Homo sapiens: one gene and its partner. The main gene of each other region encodes a partner of the protein of the gene in region 2 in a complex. Each region holds a gene or a part of one and is shown on either strand. Other genes may lie near its edges. A codon is read from its position in the direction of its gene.

Evidence for each region.
Region 1: the proteins of TMPRSS15 (region 2) and PRSS1 are in contact, whole or in part, in a cryo-EM structure (PDB 8ZIV), measured with the Homo sapiens proteins. Residues at the interface, in NP_001414986.1 of Homo sapiens: Tyr276, Thr277, Ile279, Trp297, Glu298, Leu316, Glu318, Asp320, Glu321, Ile369, Gln370, Ser372, Phe374, Pro376, Phe377, Ala389, Gly399, Pro400, Gly401, Gly402, Arg403, Glu405, Glu432, Asn433, Lys485, Ile486, Leu487, Val513, Pro514, Thr515; in NP_002760.1 of Homo sapiens: Phe18 (codon at 2,058), Asp19 (codon at 2,055), Asp20 (codon at 2,052), Asp22 (codon at 2,046), Lys23 (codon at 2,043), Ile24 (codon at 2,040), Val25 (codon at 2,037), Tyr45 (codon at 1,977), His46 (codon at 1,974), Phe47 (codon at 1,971), Cys48 (codon at 1,968), His63 (codon at 1,923), Cys64 (codon at 1,920), Tyr65 (codon at 1,917), Lys66 (codon at 1,914), Arg68 (codon at 849), Ala91 (codon at 780), Lys92 (codon at 777), Arg95 (codon at 768), His96 (codon at 765), Arg101 (codon at 750), Lys102 (codon at 747), Leu104 (codon at 741), Asn146 (codon at 615), Tyr175, Phe188, Leu189, Glu190, Gly191, Gly192.

What each region holds. Positions count from the first base shown.
Region 1 is NC_000007.14:142,736,514-142,752,623, reverse strand, and holds the start of PRSS1 (serine protease 1 preproprotein), read right to left. Parts: upstream 3,153-16,110; 5' UTR 3,140-3,152; coding exon 3,100-3,139; intron 2,070-3,099; coding exon 1,910-2,069; intron 851-1,909; coding exon 597-850; intron 194-596; coding exon 57-193; intron 1-56. UniProt on the Homo sapiens protein: Has activity against the synthetic substrates Boc-Phe-Ser-Arg-Mec, Boc-Leu-Thr-Arg-Mec, Boc-Gln-Ala-Arg-Mec and Boc-Val-Pro-Arg-Mec. The single-chain form is more active than the two-chain form against all of these substrates.
Region 2 is NC_000021.9:18,272,278-18,288,408, forward strand, and holds part of TMPRSS15 (enteropeptidase isoform 2 precursor), read right to left. Parts: intron 8,945-16,131; coding exon 8,763-8,944; intron 6,783-8,762; coding exon 6,687-6,782; intron 3,060-6,686; coding exon 2,920-3,059; intron 1-2,919. UniProt on the Homo sapiens protein: Responsible for initiating activation of pancreatic proteolytic proenzymes (trypsin, chymotrypsin and carboxypeptidase A).

The DNA of each region.
Region 1 (16,110 bases), on a different chromosome or scaffold from region 2:
TGGTGGGGCCTAGGTATCAGTGGGAGCCTCAGCATGGGAAGGGTTGGTCAAATCACCTGACATGAATCCTTGCCTCCCTCAAGGAAGCCCACACAGAACATGTTGCTGGTAATCTTTCCAGGGTAGGAGGCTTCACACTTAGCCTGGCTCAGCACAGGAGCATCCAGGCACTGCAGCTCGTCTGGGTAGTCGGCTGTGAGGATCAGGAAGAGATCAAAGGAAGTAGAAATGTGGGTCAGGCCAGAGAAGGAGACAATAATCTTGGATGGAAAACTGAAGAGGAACACAGCCCCTGGAGAGGACTCCAGAACATAAGTCCTGGCAAGAGACTCTGGCTTTTAGTTCCCAGAATGATCATTGTTGAACCCCTCCCAAGATGTGATCATATCAAGTTCTCCATTTGTCCTGTCTCTTGATTTTAGGAGCCAAGTCCTTGATAGTTTGCATCTCTCTGGTGCCCAGTGCAGAGTCTGTGTGTAATGGGCACTCGAAATGTGTCTTAAGCCTGGAGGTGAGAGGATTCAAGTTAAGGGGCATGGTTTGTTCTGGAAATTGTGAGGATGGAGGGAAGTAGAAGGACTAAGGGTCCCACTCACCGCCAGAGCTCGCAGTGTTGCCCCAGCCAGAGATGAGGCACTTCGTGCCAGTGGCTGGAGGGGCGGTGGGCAGAGAGATGGTGGACACGCGGGCGTTGATTACTGCACGTGAGGAGAGCTTGATTAACATGATGTCATTGTTCAGAGTCTTCCTGTCGTATTGGGGGTGGCGGATGATCTTGGCTGCATTGATGAACTGCTCATTCCCCTCCAGGACTTCGATGTTGTGCTCTCCCAGTCTCACCTGGATGCGGCTGATGGGCAGGGCAGGCATGGTGAAGACCTTCTCCCACAGCCAGGGCACCTATCCCACCTTCCCCAGGTTCCTCAAGCTCTCTGCTCATGGACAGCTCTGGAGGCATGGGGTGGGGTGTGTGGCCATATCGCATGGGCAGCAGAGGGATGTGGGTCAGTGAAGGTATGAGACCCAGGACCTATCTGCTCCAGAGGTTGGTGGTAGTGGGGTGGGGAAGAGTCAAAGGGATCCCACCAGAGGCTGCTCCTCAACCTGCCTCCCCAGACTCTTTCCCACAATCTCCACAGTCACTAGCACTGTGGGCACAAGGAGCTCCTTGAAGTTTTCCCAGCGTTCTTCACCCCAGGCCTTTGCCAACTGTGCACAGTGCCTGTTCCTCCCTCCATTCTTGGCCTGGTGAGAACCACCCTTCTGTGTAATCTAATCCAAGGGTAGCCATAGCATTAGCATCTCCTGGGAACTTGTTAGAAATGTGAATTCTTGGTCCTTACCCCCACCTACTGATCAGAACCTTGGGGAAGGGGCCCAGTGATTTGTGCCTTAACAAGCCTGCAGGGCGTTCTGATGCATACTCAGGTTTGAGAGTTCTTGGTGTAGGCAGCAGTTCTCAGCTCTGTCTATACACTCTACAGTTAGCAGAGGTAGAGTGTAAAATTCTCACTGATATTCACACCCTCTTCCTGAAAATTTTGACTTAATTGCCCTGGGATAGGACAAAGGCATCTGTATTTTTAAAAAGTCTTTCTTAGTTGGCTTTAATGTGTAGCTAACCAGCAAAAGATACTTGCCTGCTTTTCTCACTAGCTCTCACCACCCCAAGATCATCCCTGCCTGCTTTTATGACCACAACCCTTGCTGTTTCATGGATTTGCCTGGGTGTGAGAGGTTCCTGTCTTGTGTTCACTCTCTGCTCTGGAGAGTCCGCAGCTGCCAACAAGTTTTCTTCTCCACCACCTCTCCCATCCATCTTACCCAACCTCAGTAGTTCCCTGGGCTGAAGCCAAGCTCTCCCAGGCAGACTGGCCGGGAGCTTTGCAGTCGGGGGCCCCACACTTACGACTTGTAGCAGTGGCCTGCTGATACCACCCACTGTTCGTTGATGAGGGAGCCACCACAGAAGTGGTAGCCAGAATTCAGGGACACCTGGTAGGGGACAGAATTCTCCTCACAGTTGTAGCCCCCAACGATCTTGTCATCATCATCAAAGGGGGCAGCAACTGGAGTGGAGATGGGAAGGGAGAAGGCAAGTCAATAGCATGTTAGGGGTGGCGCTCCCAGCCTGTGATTGCTTTCTGCTAATTAGAAATCCTTAACAAGCACAGTGAGGCTAGGCAAGGGAGGGAGCTCTGCCACCCCTGGTGATCATCACTGCCTGTGGCTCCCAAGTCTCTGTGCCTGCAGGGCACATAGCTAGGTACCCTGCGGAGGATCCGAGCTCTCCTGGGGTCACCAGGCTGAAGTCGCAAGGAATGTCCTCACAATGCTTCCAGTGGGATAGGAGTTGGGATGTGGTTGTCTCTCCCACTGAGTGCTTCTCTCTTTTATTCATCACCTGTGTACTTCCCCTGGCTATTTGGGCCCTGGATTGTCAGGATTCTTTTGCCAAGCTAGGAAAACCCCCTGTCTGCATAGACCTGGCCATGACCACCTTCCCCCATAGCTCAGATCTGTGCAGTCAGGGCAGAGTTGAGGGCAGCCCCCAGGCTCACTTTGGCAGAACAAAGGTAGACTTTGTTATTGGCCAATAGGACAGCAATTCTTAACCTTGGCTGCATGGCTGGAAATATTAAAAATCACCTGGGAAGCTTAAAAGCCCAGAACACAAGCTCTACCCCAGACAATTGAAGTTAGAATTTCTAGAGCTGAGTCTCTGGCATGAGTAATTTTTCAACCTCCCCAGGTGCATTCGAGGTTAGGAGCAGCTATAGTGGTGCTATTCTGTTGCTGTTGGAGCCAAGCCTGAAGCCTGCTGCTTCATTTCGTGGGACAGCCCCACCTGGCCCCCTTCCCAGCTTCTCCAACCACAACTCGGATATGGATGAATGACAGTGGTGGGAGTGAAGTCAAGGAGAAGGTGAACAGGTGAGACTTAAAAAGAGCCCAAGGAGGATGGGAAGGAGATATGCCAGATGGAGGAAACGGAATATCAGAGCACAGTCAAAAGAGGAGAGGTGGTAAGAATGGAAGGGCATTTGTCGGCCAGGAACGGGGGGGTGGTTGGGGCCTGAGGCAGGGCATGATACTCACGAGCAGCTGCCACAAAGGTAAGGATCAGGAGTGGATTCATGGTGGTAGAGTGTGCCTGACTGGTGGTGGAGGACTCGTCTTTATACCTCACGAGGATCCAGAGAGGAGGTGACTGTGAGGTGAGGGTCACCACTCCTCCCAGCACAAACACACCTGCAGCTTTCCTCTTCCCAGGGTCTTGCATCAGCCTGGCTATGTTTGGCCACTCTCTGGGTTTGTGATTCACAGGTGATAAGGAAACTTTCCTTCTGAGAGCAGAGAGCGAGACCGGCTGTTTCCTGCAAGGATACTGGGATGGGGAAGACAGGGAAAGTCAAGCCCCAGATAACAGAGCTGGGCTTTCTTAGGCCCTGGAGATGAGGGTTAGAAGGAGGGAGAATGGCCTAGCTGTTTACAAATCTTTCCACCTATTGGGAATGTATTTAATGTACTTAAGGAAGGGCAAGCATTGGTAAAAAGCTTGGATTTCAGTTTCCTGGGGCCCACATGAGAGGAGCAAAGTCTTATCTAAGGCTCATTCCTGTGAATATGAAGATGCTTCTCTCCAGTCAGTGTGCAGGAAGGTCAAATGCAAGATTTTGGGGAATGAAAATTCCAACACTAAGGGGTAAGGAGAAGGGAGACTCAGCATTCCATAGGATTCTGGGCTTCCAGATTTCTCTCCTTCCTACCAAGGCTTAAGGATGGGAAGTGTTTCAAAGAAGGAGGGGGCACAGTTTCTGTAGGAGCTTTCTCAGTGCCTCTGGAGGATGGAAAACCAATGGCGCACTCCTCCCCTTCTTCAATGTGAAGACATTTGTCTCTCTCATGTGCATCCTGTCATAGGTTCTTTTTATGCAGCCTCACTGTTGTCCTTGCAATCTGCACTCAGGTGATGCAAACTGACCCACCTGCTCAGGGCTGACAGTCTGAACCAGAATGATCAGATGATCATTTTCTATTTTCGATGCAGTGAGATTATGCTTGGCTCAGTACAAAGTGAATCTTCCTAGAGAATATCCTGATTTGGGCCCTACCAAGGCTACTAAGACACAGTTGTGTAATTGACTGAGGCACAACCTGGCCAGAGCAGTGTGGAAATGGAGATGCTGTCTGTGCTCAAGTCTAATGATGTAGGGAAAGGAGGAGCTTCCTTATGAGGGTGCTTTCCCTTCTCAGCAACTCTGAGCTCAGGCTGGTGATGGGCAGGAGTAAGTAGAGTTCAAGTTTGGATTCTTTGAAAGGTAAAAGAAGCAGAAATGTTCTAGAGACGGTGGACAAAATGGGAAAAGCTCAGAAACTTGGTGTTGAAATCGGACCTGGCCAGGGGGCTAGAGGGAGGAAGCAAATGGAAACCAGAGGGAATTGGAAATAATGCCAAAGTGGGGCCCATGGTGTTGAGAGGACACACAGAGTACCTTCGGTTTCAGCTCCTGGTATGGCTGCTGAGCCAGCTTCCCCACAGCCAGGAGACCCACTGCTTGGAGACCCCCTCTCCGCCTCGCACCCCCTCTAATCACTAATGGGCCCATACCTAACACTGCTATGCTTAGATGGTGCACAGTGCCTGACAACTTTACAAGAGTTTTCATGTAAGCAACAGTGGTACATTACTTTTCATTTATGCTGAGTTTCACACTTTAACTTCCCACAAACATGCTAATTGTAATTTGTGCAGAGCAAAATTGTTTCCATTTATAGAGCAAGAGACTGAGATTCAGAAGGATTCTGTCTTGCCCAAGAATACAGATCTTGGCAGAGCTGACCATAAGGCCAACAGAAGCCATGGAGAGCATTGTGAAGTGTGGGAATTTCATCTAAGAGGAGGTATCTAAAAGGAGATTTATTGAGGATCAAGACAGAGGTCCCTAGAGGACAAACTGTACATCTGATTCCTTCCTGGTGCTTTTCTTCCTGGTAGAAATGGATGATTGAATTTATCTTTCTCCTGGCACCTAGTCTCAGAGCATTACCATGCCACAGTTCGAGACCCATCCAGGCCATGACTGCCATGTAGATGACAAACTTCTCTGCTCACGAATAACTTGCCAAGCCTGAGGTAGCCAGGTTTTGGAGCATTGATAAAATGGGCTTTTCCTTTGTTGTCCCTGAACATGTTGTTTCATTTTGTCCCTTGTCATGGGGTCTTCACAGAACACCTGCCTTAGAGGATAAGGAGAGACTCCTGCTCTAACAACTGTAGATACTAGTGTGCACTAAACAGGGAGGTGAACCTTGGTAGAAGATGGAAAATTTTTTTGGAAAAGGGGATTTTTGGATCAGTGCTTGTGGCTCTGACTCTCAGTCTGAAAGGGAACACCCAAGAATTTGAGGATTTTCTGTATCTAGAGCTTGAAGACTAGCCTTCTCCAGTATTTTGCGCTCTTCCTTAAATGATCGCAAAATAGTCTGAGGTCAGCTTTCTTCAGAAAGGAATGACCTTACAGGCAGAGAAGATAGCTATAGGTGGAGACTGTTACCTCATACTGTAGACTCAGATGTGTAGGATAGGTTCAGATCCAGCTGCCAAAGCTCAATTTGGAGGACATGTCATTCTTGTTACTGTTCATTCTGAATTGTAGATTTCTTTGTCTACTTCTCAAGACATCTCTCTGGCTTGTATTTAGTGCTTAGCACACTAAACCACTTTCCTTTAATTTTGATAACAGTGAGTCTTTTCTGTGTGCTTACTATATACCACATAACTTACTCTACAGCATGTAACTCATGTAAGTTAAAAATGTTTTTTTCATTTTATCATCACAACCACCTATGGGATTGCCCATTTTACAGATGATCAAATGAACTTTCTGGAGGTGAAGTGGCTTGCTCAAGGCCACACAGCCAGGAGGTTTTAAAGATGGGATGTAAGTATGGTGGTCCGACTCTAGGGCCTCCATGCTGTGCAATAGGGCATTCTGCTTTGCCTCCTCTGAGCTGATCCTTAGTGCAGCCTCACTGAGGTGGTAGGCAGCAGATATTGTTCTCTCCTTTTTACAGATGAACAATCTAAAGCTCAGAGGTCAAGTGTCTTCTCCAGGGTTACTTGTCTAAGGAAAGCAGAGATCATACTAGAAACTTCCCTATTCAGACAAAGTTTGTTCCCCTTCATGTTGCTACAGAGTTGCGTCTTTCAGACCTAGTAGTCTGCAAACTGTCATATTCCAATTTTATTTTTTAACACTTTCTTCTCCAAATCCCACCAGATCTTTCTCCTACATTCTTACTGATCTCCTCCTTGGGTTCCAGTATCTTTTATCGTTCCCCAACCAGACTGTCAGATTTTAGGCTGTCTTACCCCCAAACTCCCAGCTCCTCTCCTCATCCATTTTTTTTTCTAAGCTACTTATCTCCCGCACAGCACAATTTCTCTTTATCCAATAAGGAATTATTTTCGTTACTATATCATCCCAGGAATCATTGAATCTGGAGAGTGAAGGGAGTGCTCTGTGTGACTCGGAAAAGTCTGACTTGTAAGATGGAGTCCCAGAGCATGAACTGGTCAAGGCTGATCAGCTAAACGGAGTAGCCCATTCCTCCCCGCCTGCCTCCCGCCCCTCCTCTTGACTGCCTCTTGCCCCTCCTTCTGCCTGCCCAGCTGCTCCCCAGCTTGAAGCCATGGAAGACATGCAAGTTTTATGCCCAGAGGGAAGTTTATAGTTCTGTTTATTCTTCAGGCTTCCATGTATGGGTAAATGGGGAAGCCTCTAGCACTTGACACTAAACCCACAGTATTTTAAGGATAGATTGATTGCTCTAATATAATGGTGAGTCTTTCTGTTCACATTTCAGCCACTCCTTGACCACTCTCTTGTTTGGCCTATTAGAGCTGCTTAAGTGAGTCCAGGCTCCCTTAGACAAGAAGCAGAAGAAAGCCAGGACAGAGTGCAGGAGAAACACCCATGTAGGTTCTTATTATTGTAACATCTAGGATCTGTTTCATGATACTCAGAGTTTAATATATGATGTATGCATTTATTTTTCTAAATTATGCTAGCTCTAGACTGAGGCTCACAAGCTAGGTTTGGTGATAAATCCAGTCAACTGGGTTCCTTCTACTCATGTAGTTTATAAAAGTCTAGACTGTGTCATCCATTTGGAAGGCAGCCAATGGGTCAGTCATTTCCTCAAGATCATCTTGGCCAGGAGGGCCTTCAAAAGGCTCCTAAGGCTCAGAATTGAATGCTCCATCCACACAGGCACCAACACAATTCCAATTGAGAACTTTCCACCCCAGGGCCACTGTGTTTGAGCAGGTTCTGCACTTTGCCTCTCTATAGAACCCATATCATCTGTTCCATTTCCCAGTCTTGGGTAAGGCAGCAGAACGGGGTTGGCACATGACATATGGACCTTTCTATTCAAATACAATGCTTGTTATCTGTAGTCCTCCTACAGTTCTGTAAAACACTGGAACTTATTCCTCCTATCTAGCTGTAATTTTGTGTCCTTTAATCTTTTTGTATCCTCCCCGCAACTAAAACATAAATTTAAAACAAGAATAAAAAATATAAAGTTTGAAGTGCTTATTCCTTTCCTGTTAGAATAATCTAGTTAATTTTCTTATGGGCTTAGATTATCTAAACTCAAATGCCTTTGTAGAGTTTTCCACCAGGGAAATCCACTGCAGCTGTATAAATTTTCCTCTTATCTTTGAAATGTATTTATTTACTCACAAATATTTATTGAATTCCTGGAGTGATATTCCAAGAGTTCTTCTAGGCTATTTGGAAGCAGCAACGAAGAAGACAGAAAAGGTTCTTGTTTTCAGTGCATTCATGTGTGCATGTGCATGCATTTATGCACATATGAGGAGGTATAGAAATGGGATGCACATACATCACTTTCAGTAAATGATGAGTACATATTACTAAAATAGGATAAAGTGATAATATGGCATGACTGCTGAAGTGCTGTTACGTAGAGTGGTCAGGAAAGGTCTCTTTGGGGAGGTGGCATTTAAGTTAACACCTGAATAAAAAAGAACCAGCCATCTGCAGGTAGACTTAGGGCTTTCATGATTTCCTTCTGAGTCTGCAACAGAAATAATTCAACGCACACAAACAATTGCTATTTAAAATTAAATAACCCTGTCATCTAGCCTATGGATATATACCTTGTCATGGGTTTTGATTGTATGAAGGATGGTCATCAGTATATCGAACTATTCTTATTAAAGTTAATGTAAAATATTTTTGACATGAAATGATATTCATGAAATATTGTTGGGTTAAGGGAATAAATTCTAAAACTACATATTGTATGATCTAATTTTATTAAACTGAGTGATTTTGACTTTTTTATTTTGATAATATGCATATTTTATAATACCACAAATTTTTTATTTAATTAAAATAGCTAAAAGAGAAACAATTGTAATGATAAAATTTTCTGAGAGAGGGCCATACTTATTCTTGAGGAAGGAATTGCCAGTGGTAAAATATGTTTTTATAGTGAGAAATACGTTTAGGTAGCAACTACACTAATTGCATATTTTGTCTCTATGTGCTTTTTATACAGATAATTGTATCACTTTCTTATTTTAAAAAACCTACATTTAAAAACTCACTATTATTCTTATTTTCTATGGAGAAATTAAGGCATGGAGAAATTGTGTAACTTGTTAAGGTTACACCTAGTGTTAAAGCAGAAGAACCAAGTTTTAAACTTAGGTCTGTCACTTGACAAAGTTCAAGTTCCTAACCACAGTGCTTTACTGCTTTTAAAGAGGCAATTTTGTAATATAGGAAGGTGCTTCATAATCCAAGGCTTCACTGTAGGTAAATTTGTCAACTTCCTATGGTAATGGGAGCATGGGCCAGGAAGGTAAGCTAGCACTGAGCCCATGAGATAAAACAGGTATACATGTGCATTCCTGTGACCTGGAGAATTAGTACACATGGAAACTGGAGAAGGCCCATGAGACCTTACATGGACCAGAAACTAGACAGGAATCACTGCTTTTTAAAGTGAGGTACACAAAGAGATACACAGTTAGTGAAAGGATGAGCTAGAAAACTAATCCTAGAAGCAATTAACAAAGAATATTATTTGTCTTGGTCTTGGCTTTGGGTGAAGGATTTTAAAAAATTTCCTCTGAATATTCATGGTCACTGAACAGTCAGCCCATTGGGGTTTGAGATAGACATTCTATGACCAAGAAGATATATACTGAGAATTATAAAATAAAATGATATTAGGTCTGTAGCGCCCCAATTTCTTGACAGAGGCAAACATGAATTTTCCTAGAAAACCCACTTTTACTCCAGTATTTAAAGAATTCTGAAAGATGAATTCACATTAACTTACATAATGTACAAGGAAATAGGCTACCCTGAGTGAGAGCCAGCAGACCACTGAAAGCCAGATGCAAAAAGGCATCAAATGCTGGCATTGTCAGATAATAATTCCCAGTAGATGCTTAATATACTTATAAAAAGAAAATAATTTTAAAATACACAAGGAACAAGATGCTTTCAAAAATGTCCACTCATATTTGTAAATGACCCAAGTGGATTTTCTAGAAATAAAAATTAATATAATTTAGATGAACAAAGTCAGTTGAAAGATTAAATTAGAGGCTTACTGGAGCTGAGGTGTGAATTAGTAAACTAAACAGTAGTTTTAAAGAAATTACCCAGATTGTAGCATAGAGAAGCAAAAAGAAGAAAAATATGACTGAATAGGTAAGGAGACTAGATGATAGTATGAAAGAAAATTGAACATAAGATATAGCTATACTTCTGGCCATCTCTTCTTCAATAAAATGTGGACAACAATCAGGTATACCAATTTAAGTTTTGGCCCCGAGAAGATTTCCCTTCACCACTACCTTTCAGAACCATACTTGGTTAGACTGTAATGATCCTTCCAGAATAATGTGAAGACCCATCAAAAAAATAAGCTCATGTTTCTCAACTGGAAATATGGAATTTCCATGAAACTTGGGTGTGGTTTGAAGGTAAGAGGAGAAAAGTATGAGTGGGTAGCATGAGACTCTGAGATGTGCTCTTGAAATTGAATCGTGCCTTTTTCCAGCTGTGCTTAAGTATGGTCTTGATTATGTATTTTCCATTTAATAACAGAATGCTCTGGGCACAGCCAAATTTACAGTTTTGCAGATCAGATAATACCTTGTTCTGAATGCCATTATGAGGCATCCATTATAGAGCCAGGAGCAACTTTTCAAAAGAAAGGGGATCGTTGGCCGGTAAGAGTATGGCTTTACACCAAAACTCTGCACCTGTCTGCAGGGCAATTCTCCAGGTGGCCTTGGACAAACTCAGTACTCCCCTATTTCTTGCTTGTAGTTCTCAAAAATAACTGTACAATGTTCTGGGACTGTAACATCCTGAGATAAGGAGGAACTGGCCAGAACAGCCAGGGCTCTGTTCCAGTCCCTTCTAGAAATAGAATGTCCTTCAATGCTTTGCCAAGCATGTCAAGTTGCTCTAAGATATAAAACCCAGGGTGGCTGCTCTCTGAGGTCCCTCAGTGGCAGTGCAAGTAGGGAAGGCACAGACAAGATTTCATCCACCCTGGGCAGCTTTCCTGAGCCTAGTGGGACTGGCTTTCCCTGAATCTTAGGCCTCTGTTTTCCCTTGCTGCCTGTATGTAAGTAATAAACACTCCTCATGTAATTTGTGTGTGTGAGCATTCTTTCTCTCTGGGATCTGGAAAGCAACAAAAGTATAGCCCAAGATGCAATGGTCTGAAGTGCAAATCAGGGCACAGCAAACCTGTTCCACACTGCCTTGTGATTCTCGTATTGGGGAATGTCAGGAGCTCCACAGGGCATCAGTATCTACCATAGGCTCTTCAAGAACAACTGGGTCTGCTTAGTCCATGGCCCAAGCAGCAGGAAGCTTTCATCATGGGCTTCTTCTGCCACAGAACCCTCTCTTGCACTGGCCCCAGCTTTACAGATTACATAGTAAATGGGATAGAGTAGCACAATCAAATGCAGTATATCCAAAGTTTAATTCAAAGTCCAAAGACTAAGCATTGCACCTCTTTCTCCGTGGTACATGATCTAAGGTGCAGCAGCTTACTTCTTACATCTGGACCACTCCAAAACTCACCAGTATAGAAGGTTCCTGAACTTTGCAGATTTTATATTGGCCTGGGATGCATGTGTCATATTGTCATATTGAAGCATCTAGAGGGCTTTATCATTCCTATTCACTGAGAACAACCAGATGTCATTAATATAATGTACCAGCTTTGTTTCAAGATGACTAAAGTTCTTCCAAAATATATTATGATAGAAAACCAGCTAAAAAGAGCCTTGAGATAAAACAGTTAAAGGCTATTACTGACCCCGCCACTTGAAGGAAACTGTATCTGATTGTTTTTATTGGGTATTTCTGAGCACCCTTCTAGAAGAAATTTTACCCTCAGCTTTCCAGGAGCCACTCTTCCTGCCTGTGGATAGAACGCTCCAGCTAGTCCTACAGATGCTCTCCTCATCCCCAGTCTATCCATTCATACCCATGCCCACCCACAAACACAGAAACAGCTGTGTCTGCCCAAAAGCTGTGGTTTCCTCCTTCTGTCCCACCTTGGCAGGGCCTTCAGGCTCGTGTGAGAGGAGCTGGGTAGGAGAGAGCTGAGGTTCTTGCTCAGATCTTTGATCTGTGCCCCGCACTGTGTCTTCAACGCTGCAGAGATATATGCTGCTGTCTTCAGGGCTCATGTTGCTCACAGTCAGAGTTGAGAATGTTAGGTTTGGGCGGCTGATGGGAAACTTGTCAATGACAAATCCACTCTCATATGTGGCCTCAGAGCCCTGATTTGCAGTTGCGATCAGTGTCAGGCTCTGTCCAGGTTGCTGACGGTACCAGAACATCATGGTGACTTGGCTATCGACTTGACACTGGATCGTCAGGGAGGTTCCACGTTGACAGATATCCCTGCTTGGCTTTTGAGAGATGACAGCACTGAACACAGAGCCTAGTTCCAGAGAGATATTCATGAGGACCGACAAGCTTGGGGTCAGACATCTCCCCAGGCAGGAAGGTCTCTGCTTTATCTCTCCAATACCACCTCAGCTCCCAAAGGACCCCAGGGAACTGCCTCCTTTTTATTGTGCCAACAATTACTCTGTTATGGTTCTTTAATCTAACATATCCCCTTCATCTTCTGTCTGGTGGCTTCAGACTCTCTGGAGAGAAAGTCTTTCCACCTTTCCACCCAGTGTTAACATTAACCCCAGACTCCTCAAAAGACAAGGCTCATACCTAGTCCCAGGAGAAGGAGCAGAAGACTCAGCATCTTCAAGTGATGGCCTCTCCCCTGAGAAAAGGCACTAAGAAGTGAAACTCAAGTTCATCTTTCCTTCCTACAGCGTAGTTCCTTCCCACTCTGTTTCCCTCCTCTAACAGGTGGTTGAGTTTCTGCATGATATGCAAAAATCAGTCTTCCCCCTGGTGGAACCGTGTGGCTCTTCACTCAGGATGAGTCTTCATGCACAAGTCTCACAGCATGCACCAGCCACTCACCACCATTCTCCCATCACTTTTCCATCTGTCATTACTGAACACCAATCTGTGCTACTGTCTGGGTGTAGAGCAAAAAGTGGGGTGCAGAATTGACTTCAAAGAACTAAAAGTAATATGTTAGAATATAAGGGAACTTCATTACAGTATTTCAGCTGTCTGCTGGGTCTTCATGGTTGTCCCAAACTGAACTCCTTCCTCCCCCAACACGTACACACACCAATAAACGGGCTCTTATTCCTCAATTCCCCTCTCCCAATAAATTGCATCCCTGCTCTTCTTGCATGTTAGGTTCAAGAATTCCATAAGCCTCTTTTTTCCTCACCTACCTTATTTGTCAATTCACAAATTAAATGCATTGTCTCTTATATCTCTTCCCTTGTTTCAGTTATCACAGTCATAACTATTTTTTTTTGTCTTTGCTTAATTCCTGAATACTTGTAATATGGTTTCTTCTATTCTAATTCAACTCAGTCTAGGCCACGAAACAGATCATGTTTGTGTAAAACTTGACCACAATGGTATGATCTTTTTCCATTATCAAGCTGATTTCTCGTATCATGTAACTGCTTAAAATAGTTTATTTTTGCATAAAAGCAGAGCTAAGTTTTTGAGCACTTACTCTACTTTTCATACATTTATTTAAGTCTATTTTTTTGGCTAGGCTATTTATTATCATCACACTATTTTTACGGATTAGGAAATTTTACAGATAAGACCTAGAGACCTTAAATAACCTATCCAAGTTCATATAATCCAAGAGTAAGTAACAGAGTCAGGACTCAAATCAATGCCTATGCGATCACAAATCTCAAGTGTCAATATCAACACTATCAAGTATTGTCTGACTCTTGCAGTTGCCTGTGCCTTAGTAAAGTACAGTCTGGTGGGTAACTGAGAATGATAGGCCTAACACTCTAAAGAATACTAGGAAACTCCAGAAAGACAGGCTTGCAAAAACTAACCCATCTTATTTATTTGATTCTGAGATTCTCTCTATTATAAGATGTTCTATTAAATATCTAATTGTTACTTTTGGGTGGTGTTTAGTACTACCACATTAAAGGTGAAGATTGATTATAGGACTTACCCGTATTTCAAAGAAAATAGAATTGTGAAAAACAATTTACCTTATAATGGACAAAATGTGACACTTTAACAATATTTCAGCAACTTGTTCATATGAGGAGTGTGTGTGAAGCCTTTACAACTTATTGGACATGCCACGGACAGTGGCTCAAGATAAACTCTGCTAAGTAGAAGTAGTAAAAGGTATAGAATACTTCAGTTTTTCTTGACATGTAGGTATATTTTTAAATCTTTTAGTCAAGTGTATCAAACTCTATGCCAAAATAACCCAGCATCTTTTTCATTTTATTTATCCTAAAAGCTTCTGAAAATTAACAAATGATCCCTATTCTTTACTAAATTCCAAATCTTTGTTTCTTCATCAGTATTCTCTTTGTTTGGAAAACAAAAAACAAAAAACAGCAAACATATTCCTCTCCCTTTTCATGCTTTTCAAACTGCAGTGGTCTCTAGATTTTTCTCTCGGGGAATGTTATGGATACTAAACTCTCATTGAATTTTAATGTGTTTATTTATTGAATTAATACATGCACCTGGTTAATGATTCAATTATAACAGAGAACAAAAGGTAAGTTCCTTCTCCAGAGACAGTCTTGTAATTATTTTGCTACATGTTCTTAGAAATAATAGTTCTTGCTTGTTCAAGTTTATGTAAATCTGACTCCTCCTTCTTTTACACAGAAACACACAGCCCAAACCTTCCTGTACTTCACTTCTTTAATTAGCAATGTGGTTCTTATCAGCATATTTCAAAGTTGATTTTATTAAAAAATACACAGAATCATGCCATTATTTTCCATTTTATTATGAGAATTTTCAAACATCTATAGAAGCTGAAACTATTATACAGTGAACATGCATGTACCCACCGCCTAGGTTCTGGATAAAACTGTTACTGCTTTACCACATAACTATCCATCTATCCATCCTTCTATTCATCCATCAATCCATCTAATTTTTTAATTCATTGAAAAGTCAGTTGGAGGCATACTTCACTTCTAAGCAGTTCAGCACGTGTATAATTAACTGGAGTTCAAGGTGTTTTTCAGGTAAAATTTGCATACAGCACCACACACAAATCTTGAATACCGTTAAACAAGTTTTGACAAATGCATACACTGTGTAACCTACCAAATTGTAGAATATTACCATTATCTCCAAAGTTTTCTCATGCCTTTAGTTTTTCCCACTGCTAACTCCTTAGAGGCAATTAGTGTTCTGATTTTTTCATTATAAATTATTCTTTTCTAGAATTTTATATAAATGGAATAACATCATACGCTCTTCTGTGCAAAGTTTCTTTCACCCAGAATAATGGTTTTAAGATTTGTTTACTTCTTTCACCCAGAATAATATTTTTAAGATTTGTTCAAGTTGTGTGTATCAGTACTTCATTCCTTTTTGTGGCAGTGGAATATGTAACCATATAGATATACTACCGTTTGTTTAGCCAGCCTCCTGTAGATGGACGTTCAAGATATCTCCAGGTTTTGGCAATGATGAATTCACTTTCTGTAAACATTCCAGTTTAAGTCTTTTTTTGTAGATTTATGCCTTTATTTCTCTTAAGTAAATACTTAGGAGTATAATTGCTGGCTCATAGGGGTAGATGATCAGAGGGGTTTAGTTTTATAAGAAACTATTAGAACATTTTCCACATTGGTTGTACTATTATCCACTTTCATCAACAATATATGTGAGTTCTGGGACTCCAAATTTTTGCCAGCATTTGGTGTTGCCAGGTGGTTTAACTTGAGTGGGTATGTGGATGGTTAGCGGTATCTCATTGTGGTTTTAATGTGTATCTTTTATTTGTCTGCCCTTTTGCCAGTACCACATTACTTTGATTATTGTGGGTTTATAGTAAGTCTTGGTCAGACAGTGAAAGGACTCCAAATGTGTTCTTTCTAAATATTGTTTTGAATATTCTAGAGTGTCAGGAGCTCAGCATAGCTGAAAAAGAGTGCTGAGGACTTAGGTACTCATTTTAACATATTTATTCTTTTTAAAATTTCAACTTTTATTTAGATACAGGGGGTACACATGCAGGTTTGTTACATGGGTATATTGCATCCAGGTAGTGAGCCAATTAAAGCAACAAGCCCCAAAGGAAAGAGTTAAATCTTTAATTACCTCCTTCAATAGTGTAAGCAAGAGTCTAAAGCCAGAGAAATTACTGACTCCCCCTGTTCTGTTTTTCCCTGTGGAAATGGCACTGGTCAAGTGTTAGTTGGATTAGCACAGACATGGAGTTGTCTCACTGTTGGGGAGCCCTGCAAGGAGAAAGTGGAAACTCACTGGGTACTCAGAGTGGAGAAAAGTGTCTTTAAGGCTCTCTCTTCCTCTCCTATTAGGAGGCCTTGACAGAGGCACCTGAAGAAGACCTCTACATAGGCCTCAGAAAAAGAGACCTAAGAATGAAGGATCCTGAGCTGGCAATATAAAT
Region 2 (16,131 bases):
TCTCATTGTGGTTTTGATTTGCATTTCTCTAATGATCAGTGATGTTGAGTTTTTTTTTCACATTTGTTGCCTTTCCTTAATTTTCTGATTTGTTCAGTGAAGATATTAATATTTCATTCTTCCACTGTCTTGGAGATATATGAGTACTTCAAAAATATGCATGGGACCCGGTGCGGTGGCTCACACCTGTGATCACAGCACTTTGGGAGGCCGAGACGGGTGGATCACCTGAGATCAGGAGTTCGAGATCAGCCTGGCCAACATGGTGAAACCCGGTCTCTACTAAAAATACAAAAAATTAGCCAGGTGTGGTGATGGGTGCCTGTAATCCCAGCTACTCGGGAGGCTGAGGCAGGAGAATCACTTGAATCCGGCAGGTGGAGGTTGCAGTGAGTGGAGATCATGCCACTGCACTCCAGCCTGGGCAATAAGAGCAAAACTCTGACTCAAAAATAAATAAATAAATAATAAATAAATACATACGTAAATAAATATTTTTAAAAATATGCATGAATTTACAGAACATAAAGTATTAACCTTAAATTTATGTTTCTAGTGAGATGCTATATTTATAAGTAAACATAAAAATCAGTACCTTCTTTGAGTGTCTGAGTGCAAGGGTTGGTGACCATTTTTGTTGAGAACATTACTTCTCATACTTTAGTGTGCATCAGAATCTCCTGGAAGATGTGACAAACACACATAGCTGGCCCCACCCTCATAGTTTCTGATTCAGCAGATATGTGATGAGCCCTGATAATTTGCATTTCTAGCAGGTTCTCAGGTGGTGCTGCTGGACTGGAGGCCACGCATTGAAAGCCATTGGAATAGAATATGGCTTGGAATGGTAGGTAGAGTGTCAGTCACTAAATTTTAGGTAGAGAAGATATTCTTCAGCCATTGGTGTTGCCTTGAAATCCAAACTACTACCACTAAAAGGCAAGCCTTTGGTAAGTCAGAAGTTGTGGATGACTAATAAGGCACATTCTTTGCCACTGTAAGGCTAAAAAATGATGCTTCAAAGAACTTAAATAATGTATCAGTAATAACGTGTTCACAATTTTAAAGAATGCATTCTTATTTAATCAGTTAATCCTGTTATAAAACATAGTATTAAAGTTGAACAAAGAAAATCATGTGACAGTCTAGTGTATTAATTACTCAATTATGATAACATTTTATTATACAAGGTATTACCTTATGTGGGAGACTTCTTGCTTACCAAGGAATAACATGCTTAGACTGTGTAGAATCAGAGCTAGCTATAAGATTTCAGAGACCTGGCATGAGTTAATGACTTAATGTAACCCTAAAATCAATAGCATCAGCCGTCATATTTTCTGCCTAGTGCGTGAGGTGTCTGCCACACAATCCCCATTAGCTGTAATTGAAGTTGTCCAGCTGATTTCCCTTCTGCGCAAGAATTCTATAGATCTCCTTCTAAGTGGCAATATATCTTACCTTTAGCACACTTTTCATTTTAAAAAAGAAGTATAAGACCCGAAGATAAATTTTAAACAAGAAAAAAGCCATCCTATTTGTCTTGAATTTGCAAGCATTTATCAAAGCAGAATAAATGTAAAACTAAGCTGGAAGTTTAACACAACTGAAGATATTGATTTAACTAGAGGACTTACATACAGATGATCTGAATAAGCGTCAATTTAGATGGCTCGTCATGTATTGATAGTATGACATATATGTGTTAATATATAAAATAAGTTGCTACACTTTAACACAGTGAAACCATTTTCCTATGACATAAACTGCTATTTCTTCATTTAGTAATTATTCGTTTGGTCAGTAATGCTAGCAGGTTTAATCCAGCAGACATTAAAGCATTGATATGTTATTAATTTTCAAATATAGAAAATATGCCAGAAAATTTATTTACTAAGCTTCATAATAAAAACTGTTAACATTTTTGAGTAATTGCTCGATGCCTTACATGGGTTATCTCATTTAAACCTCTCCATAAACCCTAAGTCACTTGCCCAAAGTCTCACCAATAAGTGTTAAAGCCAGGATCAAACAAGAGTAGTCTGAACATAGAATCCATGCTCTTCATGACTACCCCATGCTGTACCTAAAAATTAATTACAATTCTAAAATCTAGCAGAACTTCCCTTTTTATTTATTGTGTGTACTTGGATTTCATGGCGCTAATAGGAACATTACTCTTAGGTGGCAAGATATTTCAGTGAAGTTACTACGTGGGTAAGAGTTTTTTCCTAATGTCACACAGGTCAAGAGCCATTGACACTTCAAATTTATTGCAATATTGACATTAGCACTACAGCAAGTTCAAGTTACTACATTTCTAATATACAGTGTAAACGATAATATAAAAGCCAGAGCCAGGGTTATGCCAGTCTATTAAGTTATTTACTTCCCCTTTGGTTAGCTGTAAATTGACTCTAACGAGGCTATGCAGGTTTTCATCAAGAAATTACTTCAGGTTACTGCACGCCTGGATGATATTCTAAATTCAGGGTTGAAATTTAGAGGCCCACAGACTAAACTGGCCCTCAAGCCCTGTTTTTGTTTGTTTGTTTGTTTTAAGTTTGCATGGGGTTTAAAATAATTGGAAATTTGAAAAGAAACTGCTTTTAGATAAGGTGCACACTTTCTGGCTCAACCCAGGTCCACTGCTCATTTTAGCTGGCTGCCTCACACATTCAAGTATTATGTCTAGTCTCCAAAAGCATCGATTTGTAACCTATTTTCTTAAAAAATAATTTTTGTTTCCAGTGCTCAGGTCTACCCAAGAGGATTACGCAAATAGGCAAAAAGTAACAGTTTTGTAAAAGAGAAATGAAAGAAGCTTATTTCTTTACTCCCTAATTATTGTTAAGCAATGAAATAACTATAACACCAGTGCTTTCTGAAAAGGTACAGTGAGCAGTTTTACATCTTTACCTGACAAGAATCTATTCCTCCTTCTTCATAGCCTGCACATATCATATTTTCAGTAATGTTATATTCTGGCATCTGCTGTTGGCATCTCTCATTTGATAGAAGAGGAACATCAGCTTCTTGCAATATGTTTGCAGTAGTACCTGCTCAAAATGGAGAATGCAGCCAGCCAGTCAGAAGTGATCAACATGCATCCTTGAATGAACTACCATCAGTCCTATTTATTCCAACATTTCACTCTCATTATCAAGTACTGTGTATATATAATGGAACTAAATACTAAACCTTGCACACTAAAGCACATAATAAAGCCCATCTGTGGATTGTGCCAAATGGATAACAGGAAAGCTCTTCTTTTTTACCGAAGGGCTAGTAGGAGCGATGGATTAGACTAGATGGTCTTTGGGCATCTTCTGTGATTTTAAACAGTTACAGGATTGCTCATGGGGGAAAACGCTCCCCAACACAAAGTGTTTCATTCATGGAAATTAGCAACAGCTCAGAAATCCAGAAGTGCTTTTCATTTGGCACCTGAGGAGGTGCTCGCTTCTGTATAATAGCATTCAGCTTCTTTGTGGTGCTATGTGAGTGAGCAGGTGCACATCGAGCAGAGGACAAAGCTCAGATGAACTATGCCCTGGTCTAGGGGCAATCAGCTTGTCATGCATACCCAGGTGAAGAGAAAGGAGGCATTTAAAAAAATAAAGCAGAGTGTACTTACCTGCTTTTTACAAAATGATTCATCCACTAGAAGTACGAATCTCTGCTGAAATACTAATCCCAAGAGAGATGTGAAACAAGCAGGTGTCTAGTGCCCCAGAAAAGGTACATGATAAGCACTTTCTAATAATTAGCATTTCTATTTTGTTCCTCAAGAGAGGCAGAACGTTGAAGAGAAGTTAGTACATTTGACAGCCATTGATGCTGAAAAAATTTATGTGACCTCATTTCTAGCTAAATTTAATTCATGCACTAAAAAGATGAAGGAAGCAAAAAAAGTGTGTTCGTGCACACGTGCACGTGTGTGTGTAGTTAAATGCAAAACAGATATATATGACTCAGTAGTGCATTGGTAAATGTATATCAATTTTCTCTCCAGAAAAATGAAAGCCCCATGGGCCTTCCTCTCATTTTACTGATGTAAACACTTCCACAATGATCAATTTCAAGGTACCAGCATGGCAGTGAACATGGAGTAAACATTACTAGATAACTTTTCAAGTTTGACAATGGACTATAAGAAAATGAATTGCAGAGATTAAAATGGAGGAGAAAATTTGGCATCTCACTGTTATCCATTCTATGAGGATCAAGGATGGCTTGGCAGACTTTAATTTTACAATAAAAACCAAGGCCACTTCTGCTGCTTGTCAATGATTTAAAATTTGTTTGGTAGATGATAAAACTGTTTGGTAAAGGAACATTTGAGCAGTGTCTGTTTACTGATTGCCTTGATTTAACCAACTAGTATCACCTCATTTCTTCCTAGTGAACAATATGTTCATGGTTTTCCTAGCTAATCAATTAGTATAATATACTCAAAAGATTGAAAACTGGGATTCTTTTTTTTTTTTTTTTTTTTTGAGACGAAGCCTAGCTCTTGTCCTCCAGGCTGGAGTGCAATGGCGCAATCTCGGCTCACTGCAACCTCCGCCTCCTGGGTTCAAGTGATTCTCCTGCCTCAGCCTCCCGAGTAGCCTGGGATTACAGGTGTGTACCACCACGCCTGGCTAATTTTTTTTTTGTATTTTAAGTAGAGACGGGGTTTCACCATGTTGGCCAGGCTGGTCTCAAACTCCTGACCTCAGGTGATCTGCCCGGCTCAGCCTCCCAAAGTGTTGGGTTTACAGGCATGAGCCACCGCACCCGGCCAGAAAACTGGGATTTTATGAAATTAAGTAGATGGAAGTCATAAAGCAAAGTTCATAAACTACGTGAAACTTACCATCACTCAAGAAATATTTAAACATGATCTAGCTGTTTATTCCTAAATGAAATTGATCTCAGATACAGTTTATTTCCTGGCTCCATACCACTCTTAGAGACTTTCTTAAGTTAATCAGACATATATCTTTAGTAACAATAAGTAAACGTAAGTCACATTTACTCAGCTTTTAAAAAAAATCCAAAAACAAAAAAAACTTCCTATGAAATAAAGAGTTTCAAATTTTGTTATTGGTTAATTTGTTTTTGAAGAGCCTACACTGTGGTCATAAAATGTCTTTTAGCTTGAAGTCTGAAAAGAGAAAATATCTATCTAGGAATCATTTTTACTGTTTAAATTTGAAGTTTAATAAATCATAATATTTTTCAAGAGGGAGAAATATATGAATATACAGTCTTTGACTTCAATATACTTGATGGACAGCAGACATGAGGCATTTTCAGCAATACAGTGTCATTGCTGTGAAGAACTTTTGTAGGAGTTATCAGAAAAGCATTTGACTTAGAACTTTGTGCTTTCTCTTATAATAGGTAACGACATTTTAAATGTGAGTACTTTGATTCTGAGACCCTCTACCTTTCCACAAGATTTTCTGCATTTTCATCTTAAATACATTTAGGACTTTTAAACATCATGGCTATAATTTGTTGTGACTGCAGGGATCAGGTTCTCTTATCAGACTACAGAGCCTTTTCTGGTGCTTTATTATTTATGAGTGGTTAAAACTCTGTCCCAGCTAGGGCACTCCTATTAGAAATTCCACAGCCAATGAGCCTTGTGGTTACATTTAGAGGGTATGAAGTACGAGAATACTTTTCAAAAAAAAGTATGATTATTTTTAATATGTATGATTTCTGTGTTTGGAAAACATGCAGTTGATGCTGGGGGTGAATGGTGTATCAACTGATGGATACAATGTAAGATTCATGTCAAATCTGAGCCCTCTTGTCAGTAAGCAGAATTAGCATGTTCAAGTTACAAGAGATTCCATTCTCATTTTAAGAAAATGTTGAGTGTGAGGCCTTCACATTATAAATAAAGATAGTTTTATTAGTTTGGAAAATGTGACAGGTAATAATTTGGCTTTTGATGAGACTTTATCATGTGCTTTACAAAAATAAATTTTTGTAACCCTAGTTTATATTCATTTTAATGAGGCTTTTAAGTTTATCAGAGTGTTTATAATACTAAAACTAGATATTGAGGTTGGGGACACTTGAATTCCCCGTCAAAAGAATATAGTTTTATAATATCTTCTATGCAATCTGAAGAAATTTTTAAAAACTCTACAAATATATAGGCTGGGCGCGGTGGCTCACGACTATAATCCCAGCACTTTGGGAGGCTAAGGCAGGCGGATCACGAGGTCAGGAGATCGAGACCATCCTGACCAACATGGTGAAACCCCGTTTCTACTAAAAATACAAAAAAAATTAGCCAGGCATGGTGGCAGGCGCCTGTGGTCCCAGCTACTTTGGGAGGCTGAGACAGGAGAATGGCGTGAACCCGGGAGGTGGAGTTTGCAGTGTGTCAAGATGGCGCCACTGCACTCCAGCCCGGGCCACATTGCGAGACTCCGTCTCAAAAACAAACAAACAAAATCCTACAAATATAAAAACTCTGCAAGTATATCTTTGAAAGCTCTACAGATACACAACTCTAAATATATATATGTACATGCTTGACGGTACTTTTAGGAGATATTGAAAAAACTGTTATATAAGAATTGCAAAGATGTTGAAAGCATTCACAGGATATTATGACAGTCTGTTTTTCACCAGTAAGGTTTTTTTTTTTTTTTTTTTTTTTGAGTCTGATAATTTACCTTGATATACAACCGTCCCCCAACCAGCAATAGAACAATTTCTTCCTGGAGGAAAAACTTGATTTTCTTCCGGTAAACAAATAGGTTGTATGTAATCTGGAAAAACAAGCAAACAGCAAAACGAACAAACGAAGAAAAAGAAAGAACAGATTTACAAGCATTTCTAACAAGTTTTAAAAATCAATAACAGTTAATCTAAAAAACATGTATTTTTTTTTTTAATCCTACCTGTAAAAATTTTAGACATCGGTCTTAGGGGAAATAGGCATTTCAGAGCAGCACTTTTTGACAATAGATCGGCTACCACTGGTGGCCCTTTAGGGTCTTTTACTAGTCTCCTCGTTACTCTTTTTTTTTTTTTTTTTTTTTTTTTTTTTTTTGAGACGGAGTCTCACTCGGTCGCCCAGGCTGGAGTGCAGTGGTGCGATCTCAGCTCACTGCAAGCTCCACCTCCCAGGTTCACGCCATTCTCCTGCCTCAGCTTCCCGAGTAGCTGGGACTACAGGCGCCCGCCACCACGCCTGGCTAATTTTTTTGTATTTTTTTTTTTTTAGTAGAGATGGCGTTTCACTGTGTTAGCCAGGATGGTCTCGATTTCCTGACCTCGTGATCTGCCCACCTCGGCCTCCCAAAGTGCTGGGATTACAGGTGTGAGCCACCGCACCCGGCCCTCATTTCTCTTTTATAGTGTAAAAAATGTCTTAGTTCTGGAGGTAATCATTTATATTTTATTTTTAAATAAAATTATGGTGCTCAATAGAAAGTGGTGCCAGTTCTCTGAAAATTATGGTAAGGATGATTTTCAGCATCAATTAATAGAAATTTGGGCAAATGTTCTGAGACTTTTTTATTTTCCCCAATTATCACCATGTTAAAAAAGCTTTTAGGAGATTGTTTTACAGGGCAATTATGGAAGCATTGACATTGGTCACTGACTTTTAAAGCCCTTCTTGCATCAATTTACAAGCCAACTGGCACCCTTAAGCACCCACTGCATGTAAGACCTAGGGCAGACACAAAAATGAATAAGACACAGTGCTTATCCTTAAGGACAGGGATATACAACTAACCGTAGCAATAGTCTGCTTTTGATAAGTGCTGTAATGCATGTATAAATCAAACCCCATGAAAACACAGAGATGGCAGCACTTTCTCCTAACCGGGCACTGAAAAAGACTTAGGAATAAAAGTCAGAATTGAGCAGAGCCCTTCATGATAAAATTCACTTTATCAGGGGATTTCTTGCACATTTTCCAGGCATTTGGAGGAAGTCCTTCATTTGTCACTCAGATAATATTATCGAATCTCCATTAAAAACTTCATCCTATGAAGGCCGGGCACGGTGGCTCACGCCTGTAATCCCAGCACTTTGGGAGGGCAAGGTGGGTGGATCACAAGGTCAAGAGATCGAGATCATCCTGGCCAACATGGTGAAACCCCATCTCTACTAAAAATACAAGAAAAAAAATTAGCTGGGCATCATGGCATGCACCCGTAGTCTACCTGGGAGGCTGAGACAGGAGAATTGCTTGAACCTGGGAGGCAGAGGTTGCAGCGAGCCAAGACTGTGCCACTGCACTCCAGCCTGGGCAACAGAGCGAGACTCCGTCTCAAAAAAAAAAAAAAAAAAAACAACAAAACAACAAAAAACCAAACTTCCTTCTATGAATAACTTAATTCTTGCTCACTTTCCCCACAGAACATGTGTTCTTCTCTCAGTTTATGTCTTACTCTGCTTTTTGGTAGATGAACCTACCTTTCTTTTACATGAAAAATAGAGAGGGCATGCATAATAACATCATCTATTTATCTGAGCTTCTCCTTTGAGTTTACTGTTATACAGGGCTCAGAGAGTTTTATTCTACTGGTTCTTTCTGGAAAGTTGAATTTAAACATCCTGATGAAAGAAATTTAATATATTTCTCTCTACTCCCTAATCCCATTTAAGTTCCAATGATTTATGTAACAAATTATCTAGCTTTTATGAATTAATGCATTGACATTGATAATATTTGAAATCTAGTTTTGAATTAATTTTGGCAGATAAGATGACTAAGAGTGATTTTTTTTTTTTACCTGTGTAATTCACTTTAAATTCCAGATGCATCATGGCAATGTCGTTGTCCTTTCTTCGCCTATTGTAATGAGGGTTTATGACAATTTCATCTATTAATCGAGGGACTGTTTGAGGAGAGGTCAGATTTGATTTCATATGCAGGCCTAGGATTGCTGTCCACTTGGATGGCTCTAAGTTTCTCCTGAAAATTGTAATGAAGAAATATGAGACACTCTCCATCCAAAGCAGTTCCTTTCTAGAAGATCTTCATCATGACATTTCAGAATATGTTTCTATCCTGAAATGTTCTTTAATTTCTCTGAAGAATCATCCTTTAAAAATATTCTCAAATCTTTATTTTTCTGATCACAACATAAAGAAAACCCTAATTAGTGCTAATCTCTCTGTTTCACTCCTCTTAAGTTATATGCTGAGCTCTAGTTCTAGATTGTGGTTCTCAACTGTGGTTGTACATTGCAATCTCGTGAGGTGCTTTTAAATAATGCTGACACCTACTTCCCCTCCTCCCCCGATTCTAATGTACTGGGTCTGGAATAGTCCACCAGACAATTTAAAAAATACTTCTAAAATTAAATCTCCAAATTTGTGCTACTATATATAATATATGGCTAGGTTGGAGAACCTCTGCCTTAGGTCACATTTCACTGTGGAAATTGTGTCCCTGTTAAGGGCTTTTTCAGACAACTGTAGCTAGCAACTGTAGTATAATGGAAGGAAGTTCAGATGCATTTCCCATTTAGAGAGTCATTGAATTCACATATAGTTAAAGTAAACAAGCCAGGCGCGGTGGCTCACGCCTGTAATCCCAGCACTTTGGGAGGCCGAGGCGGGCGGATCACAAGGTCAGGGGATCGAGACCATCTTGGTTAACACGGTGAAACCCCGTCTCTACTAAAAATACAAAAAATCAGCCGGGCGTGGTGGTGGGCGCCTGTAGTCCCAGCTACTTCGGGGGGCAGAGGCAGGAGAATGGCGTGAACCCGGGGGGCGGAGCTTGCAGTGAGCCGAGATTGCGCCACTGCACTCCAGCCTGGGAGACAAAGCAAGACTCCGCCTCAAAAAAAAAAAAAAAAAAAAAAAAAAAAGTAAACAGTATGCCTTATTATAATTTTTATAATCTAACATATAAACTTGAATAATCTCCATATACAATGTTGGCCATCTATAATAATTGGTAAAGGATAACACTTGTGTTGTAGAACAGATTAAATTGGGTAGTATATTATAATTTGAAAGTGTGCAAGGACTTTTAAATGTGCTATTGGCCTGCGATTTCTTCACACAAAGGAATTATCAGCTGGAATTAAGCCAGTTAAGCCATATTCACAATGAAGGTAAAATTCAATGGTTGCAATCCTAGGCAGAGCTATTGATTCAATTCTTAACAGTCGCAAATGCCTCGTTTAATGTGGTATTTAAATATTAAAGTCCAAGTCACTTCCAGATGTATAAAGGGCATGAAGTTACTTACATCTATCTATCACTTTGTTTTATTTACCAAATTACTATGTTTGGTCAGGTAGCAGTCATCAGTAAAGCCAGTGAGCGTCCAAGCATTCAGTAAAGCATCCACTGACAACCACATTGCATTAGAACTTGAAGAAATACACCTAAGTGCTCTGTAGCAACAAAATACTACTTGGTGCCAAGTGCAATACCGAGAACTTTTGTATCTCTTCATTTAATCCTCATCATAATTTTACAATGGGAACAAACTAGGCGCTGATTATCTAAATGGTAGGAGGTGACTTTAATTGGAGCTGTCTGACTTTAGAGCCTGCACTTAACACCAGTGACTGGGGTGCCTCATACAGCTCTGAGTGGGGTGCCATGGGAGGGATTGAGAACTAGAAGGAAGGACTGGAGATGTGGGGGGCAAGAGGGAGAGATAAGCTCTGCTGTTGCTTTCCCTGCTCCCACATAGGGGAAGTTATCTCTGCTCCTAGTGGTTGGTGGCAGCTCCTTAAGTGGCTTAGAGACTGGGCCAGGAGGTCATTATGGTGCTGTACAGGCTTGACAAGAGGTCTTCGTGCTTTCTCTTCTCCAGGTCAGAGGAATCTGTACTTCAGCCATGCTTGGCATCTTGATAATTTCAGACAGCACCCCACTTCCACTGTACCCTGGGATTCCCGTGTCTACTTTAGCCTATGTAGGGAGAGTGAACAGAGCCAAATCTCTTCCCTGGTGTTCTGTTTCTGAACTTCTTTCTCTATCACATGTTAAGTATATTTCCTAAAGCTCAACTGGTCAGTTTTCACTTGAGTAGCCTGCCTGTTAAGACTGACAGGTAACAAGTAGTTACTTTATTTTAAAAATTGTATGATTTTTTTTTTACTCAACATTTACCTCACACATTCACTCAATATTTACAAAAAATTAATCTTACAATTACTATACCGTATGTTTTGTGTTTGGCATTTTATTAAATTTATTTATACATCATATTCTCTGTTATATTCATATAACCAATGTATTGTAATAGTATTTATAATTTATAGTGTATGTATATAAATTATCTATATAAATATTACCTATATTAATGAACTATTAATATTTGCTCACAGTGTATGAGATCATTATATATAAGTTGGAGTTAACAGAGGACATGTCATTATTAAAAATTATAGGATTGTCTCCTCAGGTGTTTTATACATATTTTATCTTCAGAATTTTTCATATAGAAGTTCAGAGAGGTGCATGCAGTTTATTTGATATAGATTTAAATAAATGTTAAATTAAGGTATTTCAGAGAAAGAGCATCTAAACTCCCAAATTCTTCTTTGTAAATACTATACTTTATCTGAGAACTAATCAACATAATCACTGATATGAGAGAGCTTGTAGGTAACATAGTTTAGTAATCATCACTTCCTTTCATTATTTTAAGGACTTGAGTAGAAAACCAATATATGAACCAGGAACGTGCAGATTAAATATACGTGCTTCAAGCTACTCATCTAATTTAATACAATTTACAACAATATTAATCTGACACATTCTTGATAATTTCCAAAATTGTTTATTGTGCCACATAGAAAATAGCCTCTCTTTCATGTTTTTATTACTTCAGTATCTATGAGCAGCACCATGGATAGGAAAAATTCCGCCGCCATGTATCATTTACATCTTTCCTTCAAAGAGAAAGGCTGCTCCACAAACCTTTCTGTCATGCACTTAACTTCCCCACCACAAAACCAACACTAGCACAAGCACCACCAGTACTACTCCATCTGGCAGTAATTTTAGAGCTTTTCCTCGGTGGAAAATGACTGGAGAATACAGAGCTTACAGCCAATAGTTCTTAAGTTCTAGAGCCACTTGAGGAAGTTTCTAAAACTTTAGATTTCTAGTTTCCATTTCCAGAAATTCTAATTTGGAAAGTTGGAGTGGCACTCAACAATCTGTACTTTGTAATCACTGTTGGGATACTGAGCAATGCAGAAAACTTCCTAGCTTTTTTATATACCCAAATCTGAGGGGCAGGTGAAGACAGCCTTCAGAAAAATCATTTTAGATGAAGAGATGGGACTTTTTATGTTTTTAAAATCTGGTCTCAAAGCATCTCTTTTCTAGTAAAGGAAGGAAGAGCTATAGCGCTGAAGATAGATGGGCATAGGAGAAGGTGAGAACCACCTGGAATAGGAAATCCCCAATCCGGTGGAGGATAAAGATCGCAAAGATAGGGCATCTTCAGATAGAAGTTGGCTGAATTTACTTTCGGAGGCCGAGGCAGGTGGATCACCTGAGGTCAGGAGTTCGAGACCGTCCTGGCCAACATGGTGAAACCCCGTCTCTACTAAAAATACAAAAATTAGCCAGGCGTGGTGGTGCACGCCTGTAATCCCAGCTACTCAGGAGGCTGGGGCAGGAGAATTGCTTGAACCCGGGAGGCAGAGGTTCCAGGGAGCTGAATTTGTGCCATTGCACTCCAGCCTGGGTGACAAGAGCAAAACTCTGCCCAAAAAAAAAAAAGAGAAAAAAAAGAAGTTGGCTGAATTTTTGCTGCATTTCACCATCTGTCCTGCACAAGCAAGACATTTATCATAGTAGCAAGAGAAAGAGAAGCACAGCAGGTTGGAGAGGGCAGAAAAACATACACTCCTGGTCTCTGTAACCCCAAAGATGCTTCTTTGAAAAAAAGATGCTTTTTTCCCATTTCCTGAGATGCAGAAGCAGCACCAGATAAGATGAACTAGTGGTACCTCAGATATATGTGGCAATGTGCTGATGTGAAAATAACTTCACCACTCTAGGCATCAGGATGTCCATTTGTAAGTGGGACTTTCAATGCAGTAGAAAGCAAATATGGTAAGACAGCTATGATAGAGCATCACAACAGGCTGAAGGGAAAATAAAATCAATGGGAATCCAAAACTGTAAATTAAAACCTTTTTCCTGTTTTACTATTACTAAAGGTGGCACAACAGCAACCTCAACAACTTTGCACCATGCCAACACTGATGTTTACACCCAGCACAGCATTTTTGGTCTCTATTTTTATTCTCCTCTGAATGTAATGAGGATTCCTAGATGGCTAGCCAATTCGAATATTTAAGGCAACTGAAAGTTAGAATGTTTCTGAAACATAGTGTTGTTGCCAGAGAGTACGAAAGTTTTCAAGAATATCGGGCAATTCTGAAAGTACAAAGAAGCCAGATTAAATGAAATAACACTGGCGAAGTTTTAGCAAGGTGACTCTCATATAATGATCATTATCATTACCACAGTTAAAAGAAAAGAGTTGTTTATGAAAGGCCATGTGTCTGCAATGAAACTCAAAAGAGAAAAGTTAACAGGTGCAAAAGGTAGTTTTATTATAAAAGGAGGGTAGGCAACAAGAATATGTTTAATTTTTCTTCCTTTTCATGAGTAAGGACAAGAGTTTCATATATGTGAATATTTTTATTTAATTTTAAGTAGAAATCTGTTTTTAAAATATGGGTATATGCTTATTTGTGTAAGTGTAAGAAACAGAAGTAAGTACAGCAAACCAGAAATAGGCCAAACACTCCTGAGCATAATTTTACTTGGTAGATTATTCCTGAAACTTAAGGAATCATCTTTGAACTCTTTTCCTCACTTGACTTCCAGGATTCACCATGCACTTGTGATTTTCCTTTCATTTCACTCTCCGTTCCTCCTCAGTCTTTTTTTCTCCCCCAGGTCTTTTTTGTTCATCTTAAACTCTAAATTTTAGAATATCCCAGGGGTCTGCCTTCGGCCTTCTCTTTTATATCTACACTGGCCTCATACATAATCTTAACCAAGTCATTATTTTAAATACCTACAATATACTGAAAACTTCTAAATTTGTATTTTAATTCTTGACTTCTTCCATACAGTCTAGATTTGTATGTCCATAGGCTGACATCATTGGCTGATACCAACTTGGATGTCTAATAGGCAGTCCCAAGCTTAATATATAAAAATCAGAACTCTCACTCTCTTTCCAATCTGATTTCTTCCTGTTTTCCTCATCTCAGTAAATGATATCAACACTCACTCCATTCTCTTTTCCTTACTCCATATCTGTGATCATTAATAAATGCAGATGACTCTAACCATCAGAACTTACTAAAAAGATCCAGCCACTTCCTCAGCTTCTTCAGCTATGGTCCTAACTGGTGTCCCTGATTTCACGTTTGCTCCTCCCAGCAGTCCCATCTTCACACATTAGCCTGATTGGATAAGGTCACTCTTTGGTCCTCCACATGGTCCCTCATCCTATTTACCTATTTAGCCTCCTGAGACCTCTCCAGGGCTCGATCCATAGTTCCAGTCTCGTCACTGCCGCTCTGCCAATCCCCTTCTGGGCAACAGCAGCAGGGCTTTTTGAGGTGTCTGGAGTAAGTCTACCTCACTTCTACCCCAGAGCATCAGAGTTTGCTGTTACCTTCAAAGAAATTTGTGTAACATTCTCCTTCATTTCTTTAGATTTTCCTTCCATTTTCAATTGGTCTGTGACACTTTCTCCAACCACTGTATCGAAAACAACCTTCTTGCTCTTATCATATTTTCTGTTCATACTACTTTTCTTTACTGCATGTATCACTGCTAAAGTATTTATTTAAATGTTTTTCAGCCTTAACATGTCATATAAACCTTATCAGAGGAAAGATTTTGTTGGTCTGTACAGCACTATCATCTCCAAACTTAGAAAACTACTTAGCACAGGATAAGTGCTCAGCAAATGTCATCTGATTGAATGGATATATAAAAAACAGTAAGCAATCCAAGAGCAGGAAGGAATGAATATTACCAGTGGTTCCTCATAACAGCCAGGTAACGGGCAGAGTTGCGTATCAATCCACATAATTTCACTCTCTGTTCTTCCTCAGTCTTCTCCCACCCCACCCAGCTCTTTTTTCTTTTTAATGTTTAGAGTCTCAAACTCTAAATATTAAAATATTCCTTCTTTGTGTAACAAGTGGTTATGCAAAATAACTAAGAAAAAAGGTGGCTCAACAATGTGATCCAAGATGATGAATTAATTATCAAAGTAGAGGTAACTTGAGAGATACGATAGAAACTTTTAGGAAATGAAATTTCTGAGTGCACTAATAATTATAATGAGATACATGCCAAAGAGACATATGTTATTAAATAGTGGTAATAGAATGGTGTCAAGGAAATGGATTGCACGATATAGGTCAAGAGAGACTTACAGGAAACACAATTTTACAGGGAAACACAAGGTTGGAAGTTGATATAACCTCTAATAAAGACATAAATCTAAAAAGTCTTAGTGATACAGTAAGATAGTATTAACTTTTAGGAAGATGACTAGCACTCAAACTTGAAATATTTTGGAAAAGGATCCAAGACCTAAGCTCTAACCAAAGTCAATATTACTAACCTACCCTTGAAATCTCTACTGTCTATGACTATTTATCAGAGAACTAAGAATAGAGCTACCATTTGATCTAGTACTCCCACTGCTAGGAATCAATCCAAAGGAAAAGAAATCAGTGTATCAAAAAGATACCTGCATTTGTGTGTTTATAACAGCACTATTCACAATAGAAAAGATACTGAATCAACATAAGTGTTCATCAACAGACGACTGGATAAAGAAATGTGGTATATATATGCAATGAAATACTATTCAGCCAGGAGAAAGAATAAAATCATGTCTTTTGCAGCAACATGGATGGAACTGGAGGCCATTATCTTAAGTGAAACAACTCACATGCAGAAAGACAAATTTCAAATATTCCCACTTATAAGTGGGAGCCAAATAATGTATAGTGGACATAAAGTGTGGAATGATAGATCAGAGAGAGTTAGAAGGATGGCGCTGTGGGAGGCGGGTGGATATTAAGAAATTAATGTGTAGAGTGTACATTATTCAGGTGATGGATACCCTAA